Homo sapiens: one gene and its partners. The protein of the gene in region 4 interacts with the protein of the main gene of each other region in a pairwise test. Each region holds a gene or a part of one and is shown on either strand. Other genes may lie near its edges.

Region 1 (3,639 bases), on a different chromosome or scaffold from region 4:
TTTAGAGGCAGAGTCTTGCTCCATTGCCCAGGCTGGAGTGCAGTGGCATGATCTTCCCTCACTGCAGCCTTGATCTCCTGGGCTCCAGCCATCTCCCACCTCGGTCTCCCAAGTAGCTGGGATGGCAGGCACATGGCCATGATCAGCTATTTTTTTTTTTTTTAATTTATTTAGTGGAGACAGGGTCTCACTATGTTGCAGGCTGGTGTCAAATGATCCTCCCACCTTAGCCTGCCAAAGTGCTGGGATTACAGGCATGAGCCACTGCACCTAGCCCCATTACCCCATTAATGTCCTTTGATGGAAAAGTAAAGTGAAGGTCAGAGAAGAAAAGTGACCTGCCTAAGATTAGCAAATAACAGGGATGGTCTGTGTGATTCCAAAACCCTGGTTCATTGTGCTGCATCCCACCATATAAAAGGCATGCAGGCTGAAAGAGATTTCCTTTTTCTGTTGTTTTATTCACTCCTCAACCTCTACTTCCTAACACTCTTCTTTTTCCCTTTCCATACACCCACAATGACCTGAAACACTTTTGGCTTACTTTTTTATTTTGCATGCTTTAAGGATTCTTTTTAATACACAGGTATTTCTCCATAACAGTTTATACGCATTTGTATATAAGCATACACTACAAAATGATTAATTGAGCGTTGTATGTTTTTATCAAAGGAAACAATGCAAAGATTTCTCCAAAGTGCTGTTTGACTAGAGATGATTAATTTTAATTTTCACATGAGCGGTATAATGCTATTAATCATTTAATATGTTTAATCATAATCTCTGTAATTCCTAATTAGGTTCATTAAACTGAAACATCCAGCAGTTATACACAAATCCAAATCTATGTTTCCTTCTCAGGATAAGAAGGAGCTCATTTTGTTTTTGCATTGAAACGGGAACTTCTAACAGGATGGAAGAGAATGGACTGGAAGCTTAGGGTTTCAGCTACAGCATCTGTAAACTCCGAGTCTGGGTGTAGAGTACTAAAACCCCTTAACTTCTGAAAAGTGACAGTTGCAGGATTCGAGCTCATTTCTGTGTCATGGACGTGGCACCAAACCTCGTATTCTCAGCGGAGAAAACGCAAATTCTGCTCTGTTTGGGTTTCAGTGTTACAGTGTTGCTCTTCGACTATCACATGAAGGCGGCGACATTGATTGTACACTTCTTCATGCATTTGTTTATTCGTGTACTAATAATTCATTCGGTCAGTGAGTGAGCCAACTGTTAAACAGACATTTATCATTTGTGTTACAAGCTGGTCATACCACACTCCTGCTGTGACCCTTAGGTGGCTCCTTATTGCTCTTAGGATGAAGCTCAGACTCTTGCTTTGCACAGTGTCCTTTGATCTAGCCCCTTGACTATCTTTGAAACCTGTCCTCCTGCCTTCCCTTCATACATGCCTCATCTGACCAGTGGTGCTGGAGTCCACACATACTCTCCTGAATCCAAGACATCATTTCACATCTCTGCACATCTGCACATGCACTGCCCTGTCTTGGAATAGCCTCAGTCCTTTTCACCTCTTCTCTTAGACATCTCCCACTTAACGTTTAACCTCCAGAATTGGCAAGCCTGGCTGAACCTCCAGCAGTGTCATATGACCTTGATTTAAGGTTACTCAGCCCTTTGTGATTGCCTCTTATCCCAACATTTACCAGTCTCTGGGGATGGTGGCTCACGCCTGTAGTCCCAGTGCTTTGGGAGGCAGAGGCAGAGGCAGGAGGATCACTTGAGGCCAGAGGTTCAAGACCAGCCTGGGCAACTTAGTGTGACCCAGGCTCTGCAAATAAAAATTAGCTGGGTATAATGGCTCATGCCTGTAATCCTAGCTACTTGGAAGGCTGATGTGGCAAGATTGAGCCCAGGATTTCAAGGCTTCAGTGAGCCGTGATTGTGCCATGGCATTCCAGCCTGAGTGACAGAGCAAGACCCAACTCCAAGAAAACAACAACAAAAGACAATGACAAAATGATTCTATTTATGATTGTTTTTCTCTATTGGTGTCATGCACTAAAGTTGGAATTGCATGTGACAAGGAGGGCTGATTTATGTGTCCAACACAAAGCAGTTGCTCAGTAAAGATGTGTAAACACTTTAAAAATAAGCAAATGAAAACCTTTCCTTCGTGTTTCTCAAAGGAGGTTTATTTCTCTTTTTGGTATTTAAAAAACTTGCCATCATTCTAAACATTTCGTCACTTTCCATTTATTGAATACATACCAGGAACTTGGCCAAGTTAGCACACATTAATCAATCACAAAGCCTCAAAAGGTATGAACTCATTATTCTTTATTTACCAGTTAAGAAAATGACCACTGTACTGCTTCCTATTCAATCCAACAGTATAGGCAAAATGACTAAATACATTGTCTAAATACATGACTTGCACTTAAAAGCTGAAGTCAACTGGTAGGTCTTTTGATACCAGAGCATCTTGGAAGAATGGTTTGCCAGCTAACAAGATGTCTTTATTTCAAAATGCGATTCAGGGTGTGTTAGGAAGGAAAATGCAAATGAAACCTTCCAGTACATACCAGGGCTGATGAGAAACTTGCTAATTATGCCCATGTTATCTGAGTGTTTGTTTTGTATTTCACTTTGTAAGATTGTCTTCTCTCGGTCGTTATTATTTTACACCTGGCTGCCTACATTGATAGTTTTGTCCCAATTATGTACTTCTAGATTGCTTATAAACAGGTCAGGATGATTCCTCACTCATAAATTTGATAGGCTTCTGTGTAAGCTTTCTATCATAGTTTCAAAGTTGGTATCTGATGTGGATGGCATTTACTGCCAGCTGGAGGCAATAGTTGCTAATTGCAGAGAAGTATCAAATGCTAAATGTCTGAAATGTTAAAACTCTAGAACCGAGAGTATGGCAGTGGCTATAATGATACCTAATGTGACTGTGACTTTTCCCCTCGTTCCTGCCAAATATGTGGGTGTCAATGTAACGTCATGTTATACAGCCTTATTTGGAAGACAGGGGAGGTGAAACAATCAGTTATGCTGATGATGTTACATGGTCTAGGCAAACAGAGCACAACAGCACTTTCTGCAGAGATGGAAACGTTCTGTATTTGCATTATTCAGTATGGAAGCAATAACTACATGTGGTTCTTGAGCGCTTGAAATGCAGCTAATGCAAACAAAGTTAAATATCTTGTTTTAATTCAGTTAAATGTAAATTGTCACATGTGGTCAACTGTAGTGGACAGCAAAAGTTTGTACAATTAGAACCTCAAAAGAATAAGTCAATCAGCTGGTTATTTGAACTCCAGAATGCCAACTAGTCTTTTCACATTTTTTACATTTAATTATGTTTTATCTGCACAATTACCTGAACAATTATGTAGGCATATCTTCAGATTCTGAACAGCGTCGGTTAAGAAATACACACTGTCCTGCCTTTAAAGATTATTACCCCCTTCTTGATGAGGTTCTCGCTCCCCACCTCCCAACCCCAGCAGCTCCCAGTCCCCTTCCTTTGCTTTTTCTAGCCTATAGTGCTTTTCTCTGTCTGCCAACACTCTATCTATGGATTTATTGTCTGTGTTGCCCTCATGAGAATGATGCTCCCTGAGGGCAGGGATTTTTGTCTGCTTTTCCCACTGCCTAATCCCAGATTCA
Region 2 (3,639 bases), on a different chromosome or scaffold from region 4:
AAGGCCATTTCCAGCAGGGCTGGGTATCAGACAACACCAGGGCTCCTTGTTGATAACAGTATTGAGATGGTGTGAAAAAAACAGTTCTTACCATTCATGCTGAAGTATTTTCAGGTAAACAATTAAGGCTGTCTGGGGACTGTTAAGTAGGCCGGGGGAAATGAAACGAAATGAACGTGGCAACTGTTGAAGCTGAGTGAAAAATATACAGCGGTTCACTGCAGTCGTCTAATTTTATGTGTGTTGGAATTTCTATAATAAAAATCTTAAGAAAGAAAAATCAGAAAACTTGGGGCAATCCAGAAACTAGACAAAGACAGAGATTTTCAGTCCCTTCAATGAAATGCTGTCTGGCCTCAAAAGCACCTGGATCGCATCCATCCTCAGTCCCTGTGACACCATTTCCAATAAAATCATAACGTGCAATTCTTTTTTTTTTTTTTTCTTGAGACAGAGTCTTGCTCTGTCACCCAGGCTAGAGTGCAGTGGCTCGATCTCCGCTCACTGTGACCTCTGCCTCCTGGGTCCAAGTGATCCTCCTGTCTCTGTCTCGGCCTCCCGAGTAGTTGGGATTACAGGCACCCAGCCCCCACCCCCGGCTAATTTTTGTATTTTTAGTAGAGATGGGGTTTCACCATTTTGGACAGGCTGGTCTTGAACCCCTGACCTCAGGTGATTCACCTTCCTCAGCCTCCCAAAGTGCTGGGATTACAGGCGTGAGCCACCACCTCGCCGGGCCTTGAGTCTTTCTTTTAACAGCATGTGCTAAACTCCATTGTTCATTGCACTGGCTTCAGCCATCCATTGTTAGAATTTAACATTTTTAATTCTTTTTTTTTTTTTTTTTTTTGAGATGGAGTCTCGCTCTTTCACCCAGGCCAGACTGCCATGGCGCTATCTCGGCTCACTGCAAGCTCCGCCTCCTGGGTTCACACCATTCTCCTGCCTCAGCCTCCCAAGTAGCTGGGACTACAGGCGCCCACCACCGTGCCCAGCTAATTTTTTGTATTTTTAGTAGAGACGGGGTTTCACCGTGTTAGCCAAGATGGTCTCGATCTGCTGACCTCGTGATCCCCCCGCCTCAGCCTCCAGAAGTGCTGGGATTACAGGCGTGAGCCACCGTGCCCGGCCTTAATTCTTTACTTTGAAACCATTTCGCCTTTACAGAGAAGTTACAAGAATGGTGCATGAAACTTCCCTCTACTCTTTGCCCAGGTTCACTAATGTGTCACTCTTGCCCCATGGGCTTTATCATGGTCTGAGATGACAATAGTAGGCTGGAGACATCAAGCCCCTTTATCCTTTAACATGGCAGCGTGTATGTCCTATGAGTACAGACATCCTCTTACACCACCTCTGCACAATTAACAAACTCAGGAAAGACAAGTCTGACAACACGTTTAAATAACTTACGCTCACCTTCCAATTTCCTCAGTGGTTCCGTTAGTATCCACGACAGCATGTTTTTCCCTCCAGCACAGGGTCAGGGCCAGCACATGCACTGGACTGCCTTGTCCCTGTGGTGTATTGTATTGTACTGTCTTCTCTACCTACCCTGTGGTGTACTGTATTGTACTGTCTCCCCACCCCGCCCAGCCCCGCCCTGCCCTCCTTTCTCTTCTCTTCTCTTCTCTTTCATTTTTGAGACAGGGTGTTGCTCTGCTGCCCAGACTGGAGTGTAGTGGCACGATCTCGGCTCACTGCAGCCTCCACCTCCCGGGTTCAAGTGATTCTCCTGCTTCAGCCTCCCTAGTAGCTGGAATTACAGGCACATGTCACCACGCCCGGCTAACTTTTGTATTTTTAGTGAGGACGAGGTTTCACCATGTTGGCCAGGCTGGTCTTGAATTCCTGACCTTGTGATCCGCTGGCCTCAGCCTCCCAAAGTGCTAGGATTACAGGCGTGAGCCACCACACCAGGCCCCTGTGGTCTTCTTCAAGCTGGACCTGGCCTGCCCTGTTTCATCGCTCATGTCCTCGACAATTTTTGCTACAGACCATTGTTTCATAGAATGTCCCTCCATTTCGTTTGCTGATTTTTGCTCATAATCAGACTCTCTTCCCCAGATAGAAAGCAACCTAAATGATGTATGCTCTTGGGAAGGACGGCATCCATCTGCCCAAATCTGTGGCATTAACCTGGACCACCCAGGTATTGGGATGCAAATCTCGCCAGTCTACAGTTAGCAACTGTCCCTTGCCAACAAGGAATCTGTGGGGAAATCCTTTGAGACCACAGACATTTCCTGCTCCTCATCAAACATGTCTTCTTTAATGAGTTTAGCACTCATTCATGACGCCTGCCCAAATCAATCCGTACAGTTATTGCTGTAAAATGTGATTATTCCCAACTCGCCTCCCATTTATCAGTTGGCACTTTGCTCTAGGAAGTGCCCTCTCTTCCCCACCCCTCCCACTTAGGTTTTGTAGTAAATTAGTGTTTCCCTATCCACCCAGAAGCTCAGAAAGTGACCTTATTTGGAAATAGTCTTTCCAGTAGTAATAAGGAACATGAGATTAAATCATCCTGTATTTACAGTGGTCCCTAAATCCAATCACTGGTGTCCTTACAATAAAAGGTCATGTGAAAATGGCGATAGAAGTCAAAGTGATATAGCTCCAAACCAAGGGCACCATGAGCCACCAGGAACTAAAAGAGGCAAAAAAGTTTTCTCCCCTAGAGCCCTGGGAGGGATCGTGGCCCTGCCGCCACCTTGATTTTGGACTTCTAGCCTCTAAAACTGTGGGAGAATACATTTCTGGTTTTTAGGTCACCCCGTTTATGGCATTTTGCTACAGCAGGCCTAAGAAACTCATACATATAGTTATGTACTTATTATCAATGGTGAGTCCTGGATGCCTATTTTGTTCCTTGTATAATCCATGCTTGTCTTTATTTATTCTGATGCCTAAATGGTCCCAGACTTGGCTGCAACTCCTTCAAGTTGGCCCCTGAGTACATCTGCCATGCCCCCACCACTTTTCACCACTCACTTGCGTTCTAACACAAGAACACGTTTCAGGCTTATTGTGTATTTTTCCCTGTCCCCATCCCATATTCAGTCATTTCTCCAAGGTTCTCTAGCTCCTTTAAGATGCAACAGTATTGAGAAACCAACATCTGGGCACTAAGAAAGCTCACTGCTAATGAGGTGCTAAGAAATAACTGTTATGTGTAGAGTATGTTTTACAAATTACGGTGCATAATTTAACATAATATATACCAAATATATATATAAATGAAAGCATGAGTTACACTGATACCTCCAATTCCAATTCAACCCCTCCAGATTCTTCCTTGCCTTCCCCTATTCCATCCTTATATCTCCCTCCTTCCTCAGTGAGCACCCTGGCTACAACACTATTAACACACTTCTTATCTGTCTAATCTCACAATTCACACAAAGTCATTTCAGAATGGATATACCCACACCACTATGAAAATCAAACCTACTAAGAAGGGTGCCAGTTTTGCTTTCAGGTTGTTGTTTCTCCTGTAGGCTGAGGATACACCGTCAAAGCACTGAGTCCAACATTACGGTTTCTTTTCCCCCATCTGTGTAGTCATGTTACTCATTTGCAACACATTTGCATTTATGTGCTTCTTTGTATTCAATTCTAGTTTCCTGCTATTCTTAG
Region 3 (3,639 bases), on a different chromosome or scaffold from region 4:
AACAAATATTAACCTAACATTGGCTATACGATAAGTACTGTTCTAGGTAATGGGGATACTGCTGTGAACAAAATAAAGTCCCTGTCCCCACGAACTCAGCTTGGAACCCAAACTCTTTTTTTTTTTTTTTTTTTTTTGAGAGGGAGTCTCGCACTGTCCTCCGGGCTGGAGTGCAGTGGCGTGATCTTGGCTCACTGCAACTTCCACCTCCTGGGTTCAAGCGATTGTCCTTCCTCAGCCTCCCGAGTAGCTGGGATTACAGGTGCCTGCCACCACACCCAGCTAATTTTTTGTATTTTTAGTAGAGATGGGGTTTCATCATGTTGGCCAGGCTGGTCCCAAACTCCTGACCTCGTGATTCACCCGCCTCGGCCTCCCAAAGTGCTGGGATTACAGGCGTGAGCCACCACACCTGGCCCCAAATTGTTTCCCTACCGTAAATGCCTAGAGAAGAAATCACTGTCAGTGGTATGAGTAGTTATAAGGTTCTTGATACAATCAATTTGAACTGTAGTCATCAAAATTCAAGAACTGGGCCATCATGGTGGCTCACACCTGTAATCCCAGCACTTTCGGAGGCTGAAGCGAGTGGATCACCTGAGGTACGGAGTTCGAGACCAGTCTGGCAAACATGGTGAAACCCCGTCTCTACTAAAATACAAAAATTAGCCGGGTGTGGTGGCACGGGCCTGTAATCCTTGCTACTCAGGAAGCTGAGGCACAAGAATCCCCTGAGCCTGGAAAGCAGAGGTTGCGGTGAGCCAAGATCGCACCACTGAACTCCAGCCTGGAAGACAGAGTGAGACTATCTCCACAAACAAAAACAAACAAACAAACAAACAAAAAAAAAAGGAAAAAAAATCAAGAACTGAACAGATATGAATAAATTTATAAATTTTCAGATGAAATTATCCTGAACTCTCTTGACATCCAATATCCAAACCAAATAAATTCAGGTATTGAACTCTTGCTATCTAAACTCAGGAAGGGAACATATTTGGATAGAAAGGAATATTTTTAATTGGCCACCAAAGCACTCTGAACAAACACCTTCCAAAGGCATATCCCTTTTATAAAGCATTTCTAGGATGCTGGACTGAATCATCATATATGAGGATCTTCACAAAATGAGTATATTTCTAGAAAATATAAAATGCTAAAATTGGCAGAAGAGATGAAATGGTAATCAAAAACCAGCTCCAGATGCTTTTATTTTATTATTTTTTGAGACAGGGTGTCACTCTGTCACTGAGGCTGGAGTGCAGTGGCATGATCATGGCTTACCACAGTCTCAACCTCCCAGACTCAGGTAATCCTCCTGCCTCAGCCTCCTGAGTAGTTAGAACTATAGGCACCTGCCACCACGCCCAGCTAATTTTTGTATTTTTTGTAGAGACAGAGTTTCGCCATGTTGCCCAGGATCGTCTCGAATTCCTGGGTTCAAGTGATCCAACTGCCTCAGCCCACTGCGCCCAGCCTCCAGATGCTTTTAAAGGTGAGTCCTACCAAGTTTTTCGAGGTACAGATAATTCTTATACAAGTTTCTCCAATAAAGAGAGAATAACAAAGGCTGCCCAATTCATGTAATGAGGCTACCTTGATTCCAATGCCAGATAAATACTGAAAATAAAAATATTGGACTACCTCACTGATAAATACAGGTGTAGATATCCTAGATGATACAATGGCTAATAAAATCTAACAAGGTTTTAAAAATATACATAAATCACTTAAATAACATTTCTGCCAAAAACTCATGAGTAAGCATCAGAAAAATCCAAACTGAGAAACATTCTATAAAACAACTAACTTTAAAACATGCTTTCAATATAATCCATAGGTTCAGGAAAAAAAAAAATGACAAGGTCATAAAAGACAAAGATAGAATAACTGTTTCAGATTAAAGGAGACAAGGAGCTCAATGCAATACATGATCTTGGACTGGATCCTGGATTGGGGAAAACCATTATAAAGGACATTATTGAGAAGAGTGATAACATCTGAATATGGGCTTTATATAGAATAAAAGTACTATATAATTGTTTAATTTCCTGATATTGATAAGTATATTGTGGTTATGGAAGAGAACACCTTTGTTCTTAAGACGTACATGCTGCCAGACTTAAAAGGTCATGTCAGGCTGGATGTGGTGGCTCATGCCTGTAATCCCAGCACTTTGGGAGGCCGAGATGGGCGGATCACCTGAGGTCGGGAGTTTGAAACCAGCCTGATCAACATGGAAAAATCCTGTCTCTACTAAAAATACAAAATTAGCTGGGTGTGGTGACGCATGCCTGTAATCCCAGCTACTTGGGAGACTGAGGCAGGAGAATCGCTTGAATGCAGGAGGAAGAGGTTGCAGTGGGCCGAGATTGCACCATTGCACTCCAGCCTGGGCAACAAGAGTGAAACTCTGACTCAAAAAGAAAAGTCATGGCTGCCACCAACTCAAACGATTAAAAAAAACGTGTGTGTGTGTGTGTGTGTGTGTGTGTGTGTGTGTGTGTGTCTATGTAAAGATATAGAGCTATAGGGTGGGCCAGGCGCGGTAGCTCACGCCTGTAATTCCAGCACTTTGGGAAGCTGAGGCAGGTGGATCACCTGAGGTCAGGAGTTTGAGACCAACCTGACCAACATGGTGAAACCTCGTTTCTAATAAAAATACAAAAATTAGCCAGGCGTACTGGCAGGCGCGTGTAATCCCAGCTACTTGGAAGGCTGAGGCAGGAGAATTGCTTGAACACAGGAGGCGGAGGTTGCAGTGAGCCAAGATCACGCCATTGCACTCCAGCCTGGGTGACAGAGTGATTCCGTCTCAAAAAAAAAAAAAAAAAAAAAAAAAGATATAGAGTGATAGAGCAAATGTGGCAAAATACTTAAAACAAGTAATTCTGAGTAGAGGATATATGGGAATTCATTATACTTTTTCTTGCAACCTTTCTGTAAATTTGAGATATTTTCAAAGTAAGAAGTCATAAACATATACATACATACCATGATCAAGTGGGGTATAGCTCAAGAATGCCAAGGATATCATTTAATGCAATTTACAAAATTTTTATTTATTTTTTTGATATGGAGTCTCACTCTGTTGCCCAGGATGGAGTGCAGTGGCACGATCTCAGCTTATTGCAACCTCCACCTCCCAGGTTCAAGCGATTCTCATGTCTCAGTCTCCCCAGTAGCTGGGATTACAGACATGCTTCACCACGCCTGGCTGATTTTTTTATTTTTAGTAGAAATGAGGTTTCACCATGTTGGCCAGGCTGGTCTTGAACTCCTGGCCTCAAGCGATCCAACCACCTTGGCCTCCCAAGGTGCTGTGATCCACCATGCCAGGCCACAATTTATGAAATTAATGGACAAAGGGAGAAAAAAAGCACAGGATTTTGAAGTTCAATACTTATTTATGGTCAATCTTAGCAAACGAAGATTAGATAATTTTCTTGATTTATTAAAGGATACATTCTAAAAACTTACTGCATGCACCATACTTAATGGAGAAACTTTAGACACATTCCCTTTTATTCCTCTCCCTTCTTCCTACTGTCTCAACTGCCATGTGCTGAGGATGGCTACACAGAAGGGGCTGCCTGTCAGCCCTAGATTAATTGCTCTTCTGCAGACTGCCTTTATGGG
Region 4 (4,085 bases):
CAAAAGTTCATAATACAACATTTATCAAACTCTGAAAAGATGGGAACTAACTCAACTTAAACATCTAAGAGACACCTACAGCCAACATCTTGGTTAATGGTGAAACATTCAAAATATTCCCATTAAAGCCAGGAGGAAGCCAAGGACACTGCCGTCAAATTACTGATTCCTGGTTTAGCGGTTCCAGTGAGTCATGCACTCTCCTTGCTTCCGTTAACCGCCCCCCCCCCCACCCCAACACCTTTTGTCTGATTCGTCACATGTCCTTTGATCCCCTTTTTCCTCAATCTGTTTGAAATTTTACCTTCTATTCCAATTCATTTAGTGGTTCCCAAAGGGTACCCACGTTGAGACTTAAAAATGTGTCAGTCTAGATTTTTATTGCTCTTATATTCAGCCAGTCTATCGTCTCCAGGCACTAGAGAAGCACTTTAGTAACTTCTAGCTCCTTCTGAGTTTTCGCATGTCCCACATGTCTATATGAGTGTCTTCTGGAATTTTAATTCTAGGTCATCAATCCTTTTTCCAGAATCGTACTTCTCTGGACTTAAGAATACAGTTTCCTAATTTCCATGCTTAGTGATCCTTGTTGCATCCCACTTCTTCCAGGTTGTCTGGGTTGGCTTCTTCTTGGCTGAAAAACGTGACGTGTACTTTCACTGTACATGACAGTTCCATTCCAATCGCCTTGTACAGAAAGGGTGTTTGGCAGCTTGCATGTTGTAAGTTGCGTACTCCAAGTTCAGGGGAAGCTCAGGCTTCAGGTCCAGTCGGGGGAGGAGTGGAGCAGAAGTGGGGCTGGGGGGAACGTCCAGGTGGAAGGAAGGGAGGCTGGGAACAACGTGGGTGGCAGATAGTGGTCAATACGCAATGTCGGTGAGGAACACTGGGACCCCTTGCACGTAGGTGCCCTGGGGGGTTTGAATGACTTGTAAAACCGCTGAGTCACCCAGAGCCCTAAACCCGATGCAGGGATAGAGGGTCAAGACGGGTTGCCAGTCAACAGCCTGAGGCCCAGGAGCAGCGGGCGGCTCCTGAAACCCCAGCTCAGGTTGCGCCACGTCGGGGCCAGGGCCTTCCTGCACAGTTCCAGGCGGAGGACCTGTTTCAGAAAGGGAGAAGGCTGCGGTCTCCGTGATTTCCGGTTCCCCCTGGTGGCCTGGCTCTCCATGGTGGTCCAGTTGGATGTGCACGTCCGGTGCCATCAAGCCTTCTGCCCCCTGTCTCTGGCCAGCGTCCCCGCGGGGCCCAGCCCTTCTGCCACGGCCTCGCCCTGGCCGCCGGCTTCCTCCCCGGCGCCGGCCTCTCTCTGCAGGAGGGGGTGACTCTGGGCGAGCTGGGGGCTGCCGTCTGAAGGGTTTCACGTAAGCGATGGGTTTTGCGGGTTGGGCTGGCTGTGCGGGCCCATCTGCTTCCACGGAGCCTTCAGGGTCCGCAACACAGCAGCCTGGCTCTGGAGGAGGCCCACCTGAGGCTAAAAGAGAAGCGGAGCGTGAGCAGAGAGAGACAGAAGGAACTTCACCCGTCAAGCAGTTATAGGATACTTTTACAAATAAATACTCAGAGAAAAGAGGGATTTCTGAAGTTAAAATTGTGAGAGAAGAAACAAAACTCTCCACGGAAGTTGGAGAATGAAGTTGAGAAGGTCTCCCACAGAACAAAGCAAAAACCTAAAATGATGGAAAGAAGGATGAAATATAAGAGAATTAGAGGTATGCTGTGGCTGAGACATTTCACCAGAAAATTTCAGAGTGCTGAGGAAAAAGAGAAGATTCTAACAGATTCTAGAGAGCGGGAGACAGAGAAAGGAAAAGTCACATGGAAAGGGCTAGGATTCCACATGTCTCAAAAGTCAGACATCTCAAAAGCAGCAGTTCAGTCTAGAACATAACAGAAAATGTCTTCGAAATTTCAAGGGAAATGAATTTCCCACCTAAAATTTCCTGTCCAACCGAAGTTTCGCTGAAGAATCTGGGAGGGGAGAATGAAGATGTTTCAGACAAGCAAGATGTTAAAGAATTTCCTTTCAGTGGATGCTTTATTGTTATGCATCTGTCAAACTAGACAAGATTAAAAGATTTAGGACACTCAGCGTATGAAGGGAAAAGTTTTGGAGAACAACGTGGCAACAGCCGGAAAATTCCAACTCCTCCGGGAAAGAACAAGGTGGAAGTACCGGTTTATCATAGATCAAGACGTAGCGTGAGGACTCGCTCTGCTACGGAGAAACAGTAATACAAAACTAAACAGAAGGAAACAGCGACAACAACAGCAAATCTCAGATTTGGGAAATGGGATTACGGTTCGGAAGAGGGAAAGGAATTTCCCAGATGATGTGGAACCCGGGAGCTGACTTCCAACAAGCAGCCCAGGTTGAGGCAGGCTAGGAGAAGGTGAAACAGAGAATGCTTGATTGAGTTTGAGTGTCAACCATTGGGGAAGAATTGGGGAACAGACGAAATTAAAAAGAGAGGAGTGGCAGGCGTTTGATGTACCTTGATTAGGGGCCATGGAGCGAAGTCGCTTCGAAGGCCTTGGTTCCTCCATGAGCAATCGGCGGGAGGGGCTGGGGAGAAAAACAAGAGAGCAAGAACGGATTTAGGAAGACAGAGGTGACAAGGCAGGGGGATGGCCGTGGCCTTTCTAGGGGAATGAGGATTCTGTCCCCAACTGCACCCACCCGAGATCCGTCCACGCCTCCGGGACCCCCAGACACACACCTGATCTTCCCACAGCTGGCTCCGGAGATCTGAAAATTAGGAGACTCTTCGACGAAGAGAGGCCCGAGGAGTCGGAGGTGTCCACAGGTTCACCGCTGTAGCTCTGAGGTAGTCCACCCGCAGCCAGGGAGTCTGGAGGGAGCACGCAGCAGGTTCTGGCTCCGAGCCCAGCAGAAAGCCGACTGCTGGAGGCCGAGCGCCGTCCCTCTTATATGGCAGCAAGGCAGTCGCGTAAGGGACAGGCGTCGTCAGAGGGGGGCCGGCTGGGGCGGGCCTGGCTGGGCTTGCGAGGCGCATTGGGCCAGTCCCCTGCCAGTCAAATGGGGGCCCTTCTGAGATGCCGCCATTTCTAGACGTCCGTGGTTGATTGATTAATCTAATCATCGAGGAAAAAAAATTGCATAATGACCTCTGAGTGTCAGCACAATGAGGTGTGGTGCCCTGAAAGCGGCTGACAGGAAGATGCGATTAGCTTAGATCTGAGCATGGTCAAGGAAAGCATCCAAAGCGGGGATATCTGGGCTGAAATCTGGAACATAACGTTTGAAATTAGTCATCCTGAACCGGGTTGGGAGAGGCAGGGAGGGAGGAAGGGGAGTGAAGAGAGTGTGCTGAGGCCCGGACTGGAAGGGAGCCCGGCACATTCTGGGAATGGACGGGAGGCCAAGTCCAGGCCCGGAGGTGGTGCGTGTGAGACGGGGCTGGAGATGCGTGTGAGACCCACACCGCTGGCTTTTATTGCTGTGGGTGCACTCACGGGTGGAGGAAGACAGCGGGAAACACAGCAGGACGCTGGAGGGGATCCCACAGTGGGTTATTTGGTTGGTTTGCATCCTTGTGTTTTTTACAGAGACTGGTTCTCGCTCTGTAGCCCAGGCTGGAGTGCAGCGGTGCCATCTCGGCTCGCTGCGGCTACTTGGGGGGGTTGGGGGGGGGTGGCTGAGATAGGAGAATCAGTTCAAGTGATTCTCCTGTCTCGGCCTCCGGAGTAGCTGGACTACAGGTGAGCGCCACCACATCGGGATAATTTTCGGATTTTTTTGGAGAGACGAGTTTTCGCTATGTGCCCAGGCTTGTTTGGAAGGCCTGAGCTCAAGCCGTCCGTCCCGCTCAACCTCCCGAGTCGCTGGGACCCCAGGCGCAAGCCACCATGCCGGGCCAATTACTTTTTTGGGTTGTATTTCCTGTTGAAGTGAGGTTTTGCTATGCTTTCACCTCACATACCTTTTCTGTCCCAAGACCCCATCCAGGGTACCACCTTACAACTCGTCACGGTTCCCCTTGGCTGCGACGGTTTCTCACACTTGCCTTGTTTTTGATGACTCTGACACTTTGAATACTGATCAGATATATTGTGGGATGTCC

Evidence for each region. Proteins that work in one complex are often made in the same cells at the same time.
Region 1: the proteins of PRR20A (region 4) and RBFOX1 interact in a two-hybrid assay, tested with the Homo sapiens proteins (one large-scale study listed by BioGRID).
Region 2: the proteins of PRR20A (region 4) and ROR2 interact in a two-hybrid assay, tested with the Homo sapiens proteins (2 studies listed by BioGRID).
Region 3: the proteins of PRR20A (region 4) and RBM10 interact in binary tests that used the Homo sapiens proteins (3 or more experiments, as listed by UniProt).

Annotation. Positions count from the first base shown.
Region 1 is NC_000016.10:7,575,948-7,579,586, forward strand, and holds part of RBFOX1 (RNA binding protein fox-1 homolog 1), read left to right. Parts: intron 1-3,639. UniProt on the Homo sapiens protein: RNA-binding protein that regulates alternative splicing events by binding to 5'-UGCAUGU-3' elements. Regulates alternative splicing of tissue-specific exons and of differentially spliced exons during erythropoiesis.
Region 2 is NC_000009.12:91,940,166-91,943,804, forward strand, and holds part of ROR2 (tyrosine-protein kinase transmembrane receptor ROR2 isoform 1 precursor), read right to left. Parts: intron 1-3,639. UniProt on the Homo sapiens protein: Tyrosine-protein kinase receptor which may be involved in the early formation of the chondrocytes. It seems to be required for cartilage and growth plate development. Phosphorylates YWHAB, leading to induction of osteogenesis and bone formation.
Region 3 is NC_000023.11:47,151,645-47,155,283, reverse strand, and holds part of RBM10 (RNA-binding protein 10), read right to left. Parts: intron 1-3,639. UniProt on the Homo sapiens protein: Binds to ssRNA containing the consensus sequence 5'-AGGUAA-3'. May be involved in post-transcriptional processing, most probably in mRNA splicing. Binds to RNA homopolymers, with a preference for poly(G) and poly(U) and little for poly(A).
Region 4 is NC_000013.11:57,139,767-57,143,851, reverse strand, and holds the start of PRR20A (proline-rich protein 20A), read right to left. Parts: upstream 2,935-4,085; 5' UTR 2,721-2,934; intron 2,567-2,720; 5' UTR 2,548-2,566; coding exon 2,496-2,547; intron 1,475-2,495; coding exon 861-1,474; 3' UTR 1-860.